4 linked regions of the Homo sapiens genome follow. The protein of the gene in region 1 interacts with the protein of each later gene in a pairwise test. Each region holds a gene or a part of one and is shown on either strand. Other genes may lie near its edges.

Region 1 (2,406 bases):
ATTCAAGGTCTTCTGGACAGCCTCACAGGGATCTTGAATAAAGTCCTGCCTGAGTTGGTTCAGGGCAACGTAAGTAGGCAAGGTGGGGATCCCCTGATCCTCAGGTTTTAGAGCTTCTTGCACTAAAACAAAGCCCTGAGCTAAGTGGGTCCGAGTCCCTCAATTTGATAAGTAACTTCCATTCATCAATCTATTTGTCCATTGATCCATCTGTCCATGTTTCTTCTTTACATCTTTCCAAATGCATTGATGAGTCTCTGCTCTAGGCCAGGCCCTGCTTGTCCACACTGAAGCTGAAATGGATTGGCCCCTGTTCTGAGAAATTGGAGAAGTTCCCTGTCCAGCCTTCTATGGCCACAGACAGTCTTTCAACCTATGCTTGGGTGTCTCCTATAACCAGGGCACTCCACTCCACTTAGAATCAGATGTGATGTCACAGGGTGAACACTGGGCTTGTTGTGTGATTTGGGGCCCTTCACAACATCCCTCATGCCTCCAGTTTCTCCTCAGGCATGTGTGACCATTGATCTGTGGGATTGCTTAGAATCACTTTCACACAGAAAAATGACAGGAAATTTCCCCAGAGAACCCCCACTAGGGATTCTGCTGCTCCAGGGTGCCACTCTGCCTAACTCTCCTCTCTGCCCCTGGCCAGGTGTGCCCTCTGGTCAATGAGGTTCTCAGAGGCTTGGACATCACCCTGGTGCATGACATTGTTAGTAAGTACCTGCTTTCAAGCCCTCTGTCCCTCTCTGCAGGAGCAGCAACTTCCCCCAAGGAGTTTTTTCCCTGCACACCCTAGGATACTAGGTCCCTCTGGCCTCAACTCTCTCTATTTTGGGCTTCATTTTCCCCCGAATAATCCAGATAATTTTGAGATAGACACCGTGTCTCCTGCCTCAGCCCTGACACTGAGGACAGCTGGGCTGGTTGGTAGAAGGAGGCCTGGCTTCCTCCAAGCATGCTGAACACAGTCGGATCTCCAGAGGCCTCCATTCCCTGGCCCCCCACCTTGAGGAATATGGACTCCTTCACGTTGAGATCATAACTGTCGTCTGTTTTTTTATTGCTTGTTTGTTTGTTTAGACATGCTGATCCACGGACTACAGTTTGTCATCAAGGTCTAAGCCTTCCAGGAAGGGGCTGGCCTCTGCTGAGCTGGTAAGTGCCCTTCCCCACACCCCAGGGTTTTGGGGGCTGGCTGTTCTTCTCCTGGTAGAAGGCAGACGGGAGCTTGGGACAATGACATCCAAAGAAAGAGACAAACATCTACAGAGGTACACACAGGGATGCACAGAGAAATCCACAGAAAAGCTGACAGAGGTGGAAGGATGCAGGCAGCACAGCAACACAGCTACCAAGAGAAACACACACACAAATGCCCAGACACATGGCCACTGATACAGATGCACACACTCTCACACCAGCACACTCACACACATGCACACATTGGTGGACTCACCACACACAGACACACACACTCTCACCCAGCACCCTCACACATATGCACACATCAGTGGACTCACCACACATAAGTACACGTGGATACACAGACACACTCACTCAAACACATGCTCACAGAGCCCTGACTCCAGGCCTGATGGCTTGCCCAGGGTCTCAGCCTCCTCCTGTCCCTCTGGGGCATGAGTTTGATGATGAGTCAATATCAGTAACGCTCACTGACCTTGAGTCTCCATCCTGATTAGGGTCTTCCCCCAACAGAACTATTTCTTGCTGCTCAATCCATTTCCTCTGGCCCAGCTTCCCAGTGCTCACAGATGGCTGGCCCATGTGCTGGAAGATGACACAGTTGCCTTCTCTCCGAGGAACCTGCCCCCTCTCCTTTCCCACCAGGCGTGTGTAACATCCCATGTGCCTCACCTAATAAAATGGCTCTTCTTCTGCATCAGGGGCCTTGTCATCCTTCACCATTACTTGAGGGCTCCTGGGTTGGAAACAGCCCTGGCCTGGGTGGTTGGGCCCATAGCATAGAGTTTGGCACTTACTTTGTAGATCTGAATAGTCTTGAGCAGGTCAGGGAGATGTTCAAGTGTGTGTGGATTTCAGAAGGCTTTCCCAGGTGTCCTTAGAAAGGGGGAATAAGGCATTCAGGGTAGATATAATACTCCAGGTACAGTTAATGACATACAAGTTTGCCGCACCACGAATGAAAATGGCAGATTTGTGTTAGGGAAATGCAAATTAGAACTACAATGAAGGCCAGGTGCCGTGACTCCCGTCTGTAATCCCAGCACTTTGGAAGGCCAAGACAGGCAGATCAGTTAAGGGCAGAAGTTCAAGACCAGCCTGACTGACATGGCAAAACCCTATCTCTACCAAAAATACAAAAATTAGCCAGGGGTGGTGGTGTGTGCCTGTGGTCCCAGCTACTCGAGAGGCTGAGGT
Region 2 (4,000 bases), on another chromosome or scaffold:
GGAGAGATAAGCAGCTAACTTGGCCAGCTCCAGAGTGTGCAGGATGGCTTTCTTTTGGACAAACCAAGCCCAGTCATAAGCCTCTGAACAACCCCAGACAGGGAGAGTTTCAGGCTTTCGGAGTCAGACATATTCCATAGTGCTGCCGGCTCTGCCAGATCTGGCTTTCTGGGGTTTGTGAGGGGGCATGGGCGACTCTCAGGAGCACATCTCTCAAACAGAAAATGGTCCCACAGGGGCCCTGTGTGTCTTGTCCATGACTGGGTCTCCAGAGTTTTGCAAAGGGCCTGGCACACATTTGGCAGTCTGTAAATATTTGCTGAATTTGTTGTTGACTTGACATTTGAATTTCTTGTTCCCTAGGCCTTAAGCTAAAACCAGAGAAAGGCCAAAATGTGGGGAGCAAGAAAGGAAGCCATAGATAAACCCCAAGATGTGTAATAGTGTATAATTTCTCTGGGAAGTTTTAAAGAGAAACAAACATTAGGCATGTTGGATTTTGCCAGTGTCTGCTCAACATACATAGGTGTTAACTTGACTTTTTCTCCAAAGATAGTCATAAACCAAAAGGTCACTACCTCCTGAACTAAAGCTTGGGGTACAGGGAGAACCCAGGAGGCAGATTTGTGATAGTTCTGGGCTTTTTTCCAAGAAGGGAGAAGGAGAGGTCAGCGCTTCATCCCAAAGGCCAGCGTAGAGCTGGGCACATACTGTGCACTCAGTCATTGTGGAGAGACCTGCATCACTCCTTCCATTAAGATACTTTCCCAGAGCTGTGAGTGGGCTCCACTGTCTCCACTACTCAGAGAAGCAGAACCTCCCCACACCTCCTCCACTCTATCCTCTCCAGAGCTGGGCACCGCTCTGCAGGGCCCAGGTGCAGCTAATAGGCAGAGGGATGGCTGCTGAGCACCTGATGCAGGTGAGCGTGCCTCCTGGGTCCTGTCAGACAGAGCTAGGAGGAGGCCATGCCCAAACATGGGGCAACACCAGGCACCACCCCCTCACCAGGTAAGCCTGCCACCTTAGCACTTTTACCATTTCAGCTTATTTTCAAGGTGTGTTTGGTAGCCTGGAACAAACTTATTGCCTTGGAGGCAAACCCAGCCCATGAATATTTGGGATTAATTATCTCTCCTTCGTTTGAGCCCAACAACCTCCTCAAATGTATATAAAGGGATTTATTTTGCACAGGTCTTCATTTCCCATCCCTCTTCCTCTGACTCTCAGTGTCCCTGCTTAACTTACACTCTTCTCTTCGCCAAGCTCCTTACCATGAGCAGACAAGCCAGCAAGACATCTGGTGGCGGGAGCCAGGGTTTCTCCGGCCGCTCTGCTGTGGTCTCCGGCAGCAGCAGGATGAGCTGTGTGGCCCACTCTGGGGGAGCTGGCGGAGGGGCCTATGGCTTCCGGAGCGGAGCAGGTGGCTTTGGCAGTCGCAGCCTCTACAACCTGGGCGGCAACAAGAGCATCTCCATCAGCGTGGCAGCTGGCGGCTCCCGGGCTGGAGGCTTTGGGGGAGGGCGGAGCAGCTGTGCCTTTGCAGGTGGCTATGGAGGTGGCTTTGGGAGCGGCTATGGAGGTGGCTTTGGTGGTGGCTTTGGTGGTGGCAGAGGAATGGGAGGTGGCTTTGGTGGAGCTGGTGGCTTTGGAGGGGCTGGTGGCTTTGGAGGGGCTGGTGGCTTTGGTGGTCCTGGTGGCTTTGGTGGGTCTGGTGGCTTTGGTGGGCCTGGCAGCTTGGGCAGTCCTGGTGGCTTTGGCCCTGGGGGCTTTCCTGGGGGAATTCAGGAAGTGACTATCAACCAGAGTCTCCTGCAGCCCCTCAATGTGGAGATCGACCCCCAGATTGGGCAAGTAAAGGCCCAGGAGCGGGAACAGATCAAGACCCTCAACAACAAGTTTGCCTCCTTCATTGACAAGGTAATGAAGCTTTGACTGGTCATCCCTTCCTGGGCTGGGGACTTTGAATTTGACCTTTGGGACACAGTGTTTAAATGTTTCTTGGATAGGCCAGACTGGAGGGTGAGGAGTTAGGTGGAACTCTAGGGTCTGGGAAGATATCCAGGGTTGAGGAGTTTGTCTACATGGTCAAGTGAGGGGAGGTGTAGAAAGAAAACAGTCCCCTATTTGGACCTGAGCACCACACATCCTGTTTGTGGGAACCCCTGCTGAAGTTTCCAGTCATTGCCTCATTGAGGCCCAGGCTGGCAGGGCAGGCAGCCCAAGGCAAGGGCCACAGCCACCATCAGCGAAGGGTCCACCAAGAATGGGAGGCTTTTCAAATACAAGCTGCCCTCTGAGGCTTTCCAGGAAGCCCTTTCCCCCTCATATTGCTGTGCCAGGCAGAGGAGGCTGATTACCTGGAGCAGGGATTAAGAGCATAAGAACCTTAGTTAGTCCCAAGGGAGCGCAGAGAAATGAGTGACTTTGCACTCCTACTCAGCCTAGTCAGGAAGACAAGAGTGCTCGGTGAGCTTCTCCAGACCAGGACAGTTCTCATGGGGCTGCCTCCCCTCCAGGCCCAAGAGAGGTGTTGTCATGCTAACTGTGGCATGCCAGCCAGTGTTGCTTCCCAGCTTCCCAGCATCACTTCACTGTTTTTGAAGAGCTAGCATGTCAGTAGAGTCGTGGGTGGAAATGGTGCTGCTGAGGTTTATGTGCATTTTTGTAGAGTGTACTGTGGTTTTGGAAGTTAAGATAGGGTCATGAAGTTCCCAGGAACAACAAGCAATAATTCTATTGCTTTCAGGTAGGAGCTACTTCCCCTTCCTTTGTAACTTTCCAAACCACGCTGCAAGTGTAGTGTCCTGACTCATCACCCATCTGATCATAATCTCTCTGACTACAGTAGGAGCCTATCTTTGCATCTTTTCTAGGCCTTTGTGCTGGGGGCCCAGGAGATAGACACCTAGTCCTACCTGAGTGAAGGCCCCTCTGCTCCTCTGCTACAAGTGTTGCCTGATGTTGCTTCCTGCAACCATTGCAGGTGCGGTTCCTGGAGCAACAGAACAAAGTCCTGGAGACCAAGTGGAACCTGCTCCAGCAGCAGGGCACAAGTTCCATCTCAGGCACAAACAACCTTGAGCCTCTTTTTGAGAATCACATCAACTACCTGCGGAGCTACCTGGACAACATCCTCGGGGAGAGAGGGCGCCTGGACTCTGAGCTGAAGAACATGGAGGACCTGGTGGAAGACTTCAAGAAGAAGTGAGTGACAGGGCAGGAGTGGGAAGATGCCATGGCCCACCCTGTCTCAGAGTCTTGGCCCCTTCTACATGCCCCCTGACTGCTGGGCAGTGGCGTCTCCTGGCCCATTTCCCTCTCCTTACCTTCATGAAGGACAGCTTGGTTCATTCAGTTCCCCCTCACCTTCCTTCTCCAAGCATGGTGCTTTGCAAATAAAATTGTGGCAAGAGGATGAGTTTAGGCTGGGCTTGGTGGCTCATGCCTGTAATCCCAGCACTTTGGGAGGCCGAGGTGGACAGATCATTTGAGGTCAGGAGTTCAAGACCAGCCTGGCCAACATGGCGAAATATCATCTCTACTAAAAATACAAAAATTAGCTGGGTGTGGTGGCACACACCTGTAATCCAAGATAGTCGGGTGGCTGAGGAAACAGAATTTCTTGAACCCTGGAAATGGAGGTTGCAGTGAGTCAAGATTGTACCACTGCACTCCAGCCTCGGTGACAGAGCGAGACTATGTCTAAAAAAAAAACAAAAACAAAAAACGGATGAGTTTAGAGTTGGGGAAGCATTTCCTCATGAGCCAGGTTGGGGAAGATCCTGGTTCTGGCATGTGAAAGATTCTGGGACAACTCATGGTATGGTGATCAACCATCCAGAGGTTTGCCTGGGACTGAGGGGTTTCCTGGGATGCAGAAATTTTAGTGCTAAAACCAGACAGTTTGCCTGGGCAAATTGACTTGGTTGGTCCCCCAACTAACAGGGAGATAGTAAAGAGGATGTGCTCATCTGAGAGGGGCAGGATAGGGATGGAG
Region 3 (3,500 bases), on another chromosome or scaffold:
ACCTAGTTTCAGCTTGGGGAGAGGGTCTCTATTGACATAAGCAGAGGTTATAAAATTTAATTAGCCATTCCTATCAGATTTATGGCATTCAAATTGTTCTGTGTTTCTTCCCTTTGATCCTTCCTGTACAATCCCCAAGATTTTTGTTCTGATCAAATGAGAATAAAGCTTACTGTGCAGAGAGAACTTTTCCCTTTTCTTCTTTTTCTTGTCCCCACCCCCACCCTTGTTTCAAGTCTCTTACTTTGTACCCCTTCTTTGTAGGCAAGGTCAACCAGTGTACCCAATCACGACAGGAGGATTCAGACACCCCTACCCCACAGCTCTGACCGTCAATGCTTCCATGTCCAGGTGAGTTCCAAGAACCGGGGCCTTCATCCAAGGCCATGTGTGACTTCTCAAGAAGTTCTCTAGATGGCCACCAAGCCACCCAGGGACCACAGCTACATGTAGTTCTATTAGTGTAAAGCCAATGTGGCATTAGGCTGTACTCCCAGAAAATCCTGAAAAATTGCCCTGAAATTCCAAGGTAAATGATGTCTTTCTGGGTAAAATTTTTGAGTCACTCAGTTGAACAATGTATTTTAATGAATTAAGAAGGTAAGGGAGAAACAGGACAGAAGCTTTTAAAAATGCCATTTCTCTGTTGTCCTGTCCTCAGCAAGAAAGGTAGCGGTGAAGGTAGTTTTATTATTATACCAAGAAGAGTTCGAAAAAAGATTACTGGTGTTCTCAAAGCTCAGACTCTGATTGCAAGTCAACAAGAAAGCATCCGCCTCCTCCCCTCGAAGGTAGCACTGTCCAATAGAAATATAGTGTGAGCCACAGAGGGAATTTTAAATTTCGTAGTAGCCGTGTTTTTAAAAAAGTTTTTGTTTTTTTTTTTTTAAAAAAAAGATAAAGTTATTTTTAATGACATGTTTTTATTCAATGCAATATAGCCAAAATATTATCATTTTAACATGCTATTCCTGGACAACAACTATTAATAAGATGTTATGTTCTTTTTTGTGCTGAGCTTTGGTACAAAATCTGATGTGTATCTTATACGCACAGCACTTCTCAGTTTAGACTGGCCACATTTCAAATATTCAATAGCCACACGTGGCTGGTGCATATCATAGTGGTCTGTGCAGCTCTAAGTCTTTGAAAGTTAAAAAAAAACATGTGTGTGTGTGCTGTACATTCATATATATTTATATTTCAGCGTAGAAACATATTTACAAGATACATTCCTATCCCCATGTTCTTCTTTTCCTCCCTCTGATTAATTCTGGCTAATTTTTCAGTGACTGCTAGTTTATTTACAAACTGGTTGGCAGCAGTATGTTTTAGTCGCTAATTGTTTCTAATGATAGTTTTATTTTCTGTTCATCTGATTTTCAGTCAAGTTAATTAAATCGGTGGAGGTTTAGACTTTGCTGATGGTCTGAAATCACCAACCCATTCTGATGATGGCACATAATGAAATTAGCATGCGTTACATGGCAGGGGTGCTGTCCCCAGCTTCTTTCCCCAGTCCCTGTGGCCAACATGGGAAGCCAAGACCAGAGAAGGGCCTGGAAAGACAGGTCAAGATGCTGCTTTTCCTACTTACAAAACAGTAACTTTAGCAGTGATAGAGAGTTACATTCATTAAGAAAAACAAACCGTGGCATATCTAGCATCGGTAACTATGCCGTGGATATCATAGTTGAAGAGATCCATTTTCTACCTGCGATATATCATCAAAATTTCAAAATCCATGCCAGTATTAGTTAGGTAGGAAAACGCTCGTGTGTTCTCTGGCCTAGAGAGAAGAGGAGGCGTAACACTTATTAAATAGTGTCATCACAGCCTCGCAAAGCATGGGAATGAGTAGGGGGTCTCCCAGGTGGAGAGCACCCAGGGACCACGGCTACATGTCATTCTATTAGTGTAGCAGCTTATACTCCACAGCTCATCTTCCCACCTTCCCAGCATTTGTATATTACACCTGGTTATTTTTCATGTTTGTTTATTTGGTGCGTTCTGGAGGTTAACAGTGGTAAAGTAATTGTAGGATAGGGATTGGGGTTAAGCTGATCGATTGAATTATCATTAGGAGGTTAGTCGATGAATTATAGGTGGGCATGGGGGTGGAGGAAAGGCAGGGAACGTCAGGAAGAAAGGTTAGGGCCTCAAGGTGCGGGGAGAGGCGGCCGACTCCCCAGGTAGGCCAAATGAAAGATAGCTAGTTAAAAAGCATATACAGCAAATTAAATACATTATTGTGATAATGGGGCGACAGAAGTATAGGTCTATTATACTTATGGCAGTTATAGCAAATGTAGGCAGCTTGCCCTGTTCCAGAACACCCTTTGATATTCATTCTATTCAGCAGTGGGGCCAGGACTTCTCAGAATTAAGTGATGGGTCATTATACTTTAAACACCATGGAGAAGCCTAGATTGGCAATTAAACAGCTCTTGCTGACACTCACTTGTGCCACCCTGTGACCCCCTTTAGATTGAGATGTTGGAGCTCCGGGCCCTCAGCCTGCTAAATTGGTGCAAGGCTCTTCTCCTGACGAGAGCCGGCTCTGAAATCTGCCGGCTTCAAAGGGAGCGAGATCATGTATAAACCATAATGTGGGTGCACCGTGGCTCACAAAAAATAAGGCAGGAAGAGATGAAATGTTACAAGTGCAAGGGGGAAAATGAGAGAATAATGACAAACCTAATGCAACTCAAAGCAGGATTGTTGCACAGGAAAATGCATCCTACTGCTTGTGCATAAAATCAAGGCCGGCAGATGACATCCGGTTAACAGAAACGTGTCAACAGTGAAGTAAAGTGAGAGTGAGTAAGAGAGAAGCCCCTGAGACAGCCAGAAACAAAAATTAGTTGTTCTTAACAAGTTAAGGTTCATCATTATATTCTGGCTTGGAGCCATGAAAGCAGACGGGGGTATATAATGAGCTGCTTAGAATTTTTAGGGTGTTTATTGCATTTCATGAAATAGTAGTCTGCAGAAAGGAATTTCTTAAGCGAAGGTATGTGTATACAGCCCACATCCATGTTCACACATGGTCTCTTTCTTTGCTGAACATTTTTCAGATATGGGAATATACGCGTAGGTATGGGAACTTAGAAATGTGCCTTCTTCATGGCTGCATTAGAAGTTTGTCTGCACCCCAAAATGTACTCAGATTGTGGTGCCTTCCCGTGGTATTTGGTGTATGTACACACACGTACACACACACACTCACACATGCAGTGTTTTTCTCTCTCCCCCTCCCTCTCCCTCTCACGTCTGTACACATATTCTCATTCTGCAGGAAGGGAACATATGTATTTGAGGAATGTCAGGCCTTCAAAATTCACAGTAAAAGCTGCCACCCACCACTTCACCCAAGGGCTTCCAAGAACACATGTTCTTAACTTCTGTTTCCTCTGAGGCCTTCGAGCAGTGGGAAGGAACAGGGTGTCACTTGGAGCCCAAGTGTCTCCCAAGGGGTTTTGCTTTTTTTGTTTTTCACA
Region 4 (3,500 bases), on another chromosome or scaffold:
GGAAAAGGATTGGATCAAAGTAATGAAAGTGTAATGTCAAAGAATACTTTCCTAAAATACAGACAGTATGTCATTCCTACTCTTGTTATTCATAGGCAGTTCAAACTTCTCTAGACGTACTTCAAAACAAAAACCTTTTAGAATTATTGGGTGGGAGAAATCTTGGGACAGAAAAAAAACTTTGGGATGGGAATGGGGATGACAAGAATTGATGGGTCAGAGTTCCAAATGCAGATGCTTTTCCTGTGCCCTGCCTTAGCCAGAAATAGCTTCTTCATGAGCAGGGCCACCAGCTGAGGTCCCCACACTCTACCAGTGTTGGTAAATGTGGGTAAACACCTTAAATTGCCTCAGGATTCAATCCCTCCCACTATCCTCCAAGAACAGGGTGAAGTTCTGAATATATCTCTCTATACAAATGCATTCTATTGTTGATACTTTTTCCAGAGAGGAGGAAATTAACAGTAATAGTAATCAATATTATTGACTGCAACGAAATGTCTTCTTTGGAAATTGACTGATGGTCACGTATCAAGGGGAGATGCTGGGTTTTCTCTCAGGGAAGACATTTCACTCTGTCACCTACTTGGTTTCAAAGAGAAGGAGGTGGAAGGAGGGGCCAAAAAGTTTAAGGTATGCTGCATACACTGACAGGCTCCTCAGAGCAACTGGCTGGGTAGCAAGGGGGCTGTGACTGAAGAACATGACAGAAGCCAATCCATTGTACAGCAACCACCAAGGCCAAATCTACTTGCCACCTTCCTCATATCTGCCAAGTGCTCACAAGGCCTTGTCGATGAAAGGGAAACTGAGGCAGCCAATGGGGTGAGAGGGCAAAGGTCACTTCAGGTTGAGGCAGAGGCAGGATGAAAACACTTACGTCGGAGGATCTCTCGTTGCTTTCTGACGTACCAGGTGTACAGAGCGGCACGCTTCTGGGTCTTCATAGGGGTGCCCTTGTTGAGATGCTGGGAGAGGTGCGACTGGTTCAGGCCGGTGACATCGACCACCTCCCTCTGGGGGATGTTGTGTTGCTGCATGTAACCCTTGATCATTTTAGCAGCCCTCCAAGGGTCCTCACTAGACAGACAAGCAGATGGTTAGGGTACTAGTGGGAGACATCTGGGGAGAAACATTCTTTTTCTAGGGGGTGCTACCTATGGTCTATGCAAAATTCTGAATTTTCCCCCCATCTAAGCTACAACTTTGGGGTAGACATGAGGCCAAAATGGAAGCTAAACAGAGGAGAAGGTGACTGCCCCTGTACGGTACACCTCATCCCTTTCTTCTGAGGTTAGTGGGCAAAAGAGGACTTCCCATCTTCAGGAATAAAAAAGCACCACCACCACTCTCTCTTATTAAGCAAAAAGAAAAGCTCTTGTTTTATTTAATTAATTAATTAATTTATTTATTATTATTTTTTTTGATGTGGAGTTTTGCTCTTGTCACCCAGGCTGGAGTGCAACGGCATCTTGGCTCACTGCAACCTCCACCAGGATCCTGGGTTCAAGCGATTCTCCTGCCTCAGCCTCCAGAGTAACTGGGATTATAGATGCCCAGCACCACACCCAGCTAAATTTTTTATTTTTAGTAGAGATGGGGTTTCACCATGTTGGCCAGGCTGGGCTCACACTCCTGACCTTAGGTGATCCATCTGCCTCGGCCTCCCAAAGTGCTGGGATTACAGACGTGAGCCACCGCGCCTGGCCATTTTATTTTGCTTTCCTCCATTTTCCTGCAATGTGGGAGATTTAAAAGGCAGGAGGCCCACTGGAAAGTGGGGATGCCTTTAGCTTGGGGCTGGACTCCCTGATCCTACAATGAAGTAGGGATAGCATCAGTTTCTGAATTTGCCCAATTTTAGCTTCAACCTCTCCTACATTATTTTCCTTTTGAATGGGTATCTCCATTTCTTATAAAACAGGGGTGAAATGTATGTGTTCACCTTCTAAGAAGCAAGGAGGATGTCTTAGCCAAATAGTAAATAATTTTCAGAGTTTTAGAAAAGTTTTCCAAAATACAATGTTGTATCTCCTTGGGACGGGAGGATCACACCACTGAGGTGAGGCAAGTAGTTAAAAAAAAAAAAAATCCACAGCTCCACCTTCCAGACAAAATCTACTGGGCTAATGGGGACAAATAACTTCAATTTCGGACATTAACAATTTTAGATGCTTGTTTTCCTGTATTATGTTTCTCATAAATTTTAAATACTGGATAAGAACATGGTTATACTTTTCATTTCTCATAAACACAGGTGTGTAAACTGCTAGTTTTAGCACCTTTGAATTTTATTTGTCTAGAATGGTTTCAACTTTGCCAATATCTTTTCTTGCTTATTGAACAGATGCTTTGAAAAGAGAGATATAATTTAAAACTAGAAATTAAAATAGTGTGCAGCACAGAACAAAAGTACTAAAGAAGCAATATATACATGTTTACTATTTATTTAATGCAGGTACATATTTAACTTACAAAAACCAGCACCCCATTACTGTATGTTGATATATATATTAGCTTGATAGAACAAGAAAAAAAACGGAAGGGAAAACTAGTTTCAGGTGAAACAAAAAAGAAAACGGTGTAGAGGCTGAAATAGATACAGCATTGCAACATAATAAGCAATTTTATTTCTAAATGGCGCCTTTAAATATGTCAAATAAAATTAATTCTGTTTAATGAATAAAAATCCAGTAATCGAACATATTTTATAAGCATTTGGGTAGTTGTGATTATTTTATTAAGACTTTGATATTAAACTCGTGAGAACACAGGCTTTGATAGAGATGTTTTTGAGAAATGCAAACTTTTTATATTAATTATATATAAGAACGAATTTCTCAAGTATTTACAAAGGTAATTTCCAAGTACACAATATGAGGAAGTAACAAGAAGAACAAAAAATGAGAAAACGAGTTACAGTTTCAAACGTGGAGAATTCACATTAAGAGGAAAATAATGTAATAAACGTTTTAGACATATCCTTGTAAACATCACAGATCATTTAAAAGTTTATTTCTGGTCAATATTTCCACCGATATTTTTAGGATGGAAAAATACTTTCAACGGCTACGAACAAGACTCCTCGAACCTTAGGGGAAAAATTGCATTTTAAAAGTGAATATTGCTTTAGCAAATTCTTCGGCTATTTTTCTTTTGTTTAAATGCCTTTACCTGTGTTCATTTTGTATGCCTAAGAAACCTAGAAAAATAGGGTACTGTTCTAAGTGGGAATGATTCTGTGGAAACAGTGAATTAGCCCAACAATTGGGGAGGGTTTAAAAAAAGCCCCCAAGAACCTTATAAATAATGGCAAAACCTTTTAAGTCCGACTTAAAAGAGTGAGGAGTAAGATGGCGCAGTTATACCTTCACAACCCTCTGACCCCAAAATTCACGTGTGTTCACCGGGAAGAGCCGGGAGAGCTGGTTATTTTTGTTTGTTTGTTTGAAAACACAGCTCAGGTTCAGAGGTTCCCTAACACCGAGAAAGGCACCGGT

Evidence for each region. Proteins that work in one complex are often made in the same cells at the same time.
Region 2: the proteins of BPIFA1 (region 1) and KRT3 interact in binary tests that used the Homo sapiens proteins (3 or more experiments, as listed by UniProt).
Region 3: the proteins of BPIFA1 (region 1) and TCF7L2 interact in binary tests that used the Homo sapiens proteins (3 or more experiments, as listed by UniProt).
Region 4: the proteins of BPIFA1 (region 1) and HNF1B interact in binary tests that used the Homo sapiens proteins (3 or more experiments, as listed by UniProt).

The regions. Positions count from the first base shown.
Region 1 is NC_000020.11:33,241,401-33,243,806, forward strand, and holds the end of BPIFA1 (BPI fold-containing family A member 1 precursor), read left to right. Parts: coding exon 1-69; intron 70-655; coding exon 656-719; intron 720-1,086; coding exon 1,087-1,127; 3' UTR 1,128-1,161; exon of another isoform or gene 1,162-1,269; intron 1,270-1,684; exon of another isoform or gene 1,685-1,706; 3' UTR 1,707-1,906; downstream 1,907-2,406.
Region 2 is NC_000012.12:52,793,318-52,797,317, reverse strand, and holds the start of KRT3 (keratin, type II cytoskeletal 3), read left to right. Parts: upstream 1-1,200; 5' UTR 1,201-1,275; coding exon 1,276-1,920; intron 1,921-2,986; coding exon 2,987-3,207; intron 3,208-4,000.
Region 3 is NC_000010.11:113,145,747-113,149,246, forward strand, and holds part of TCF7L2 (transcription factor 7-like 2), read left to right. Parts: intron 1-264; coding exon 265-351; intron 352-3,500. UniProt on the Homo sapiens protein: Participates in the Wnt signaling pathway and modulates MYC expression by binding to its promoter in a sequence-specific manner. Acts as a repressor in the absence of CTNNB1, and as activator in its presence.
Region 4 is NC_000017.11:37,738,560-37,742,059, forward strand, and holds part of HNF1B (hepatocyte nuclear factor 1-beta), read right to left. Parts: intron 1,081-3,500; coding exon 881-1,080; intron 1-880. UniProt on the Homo sapiens protein: Transcription factor that binds to the inverted palindrome 5'-GTTAATNATTAAC-3'. Binds to the FPC element in the cAMP regulatory unit of the PLAU gene. Transcriptional activity is increased by coactivator PCBD1.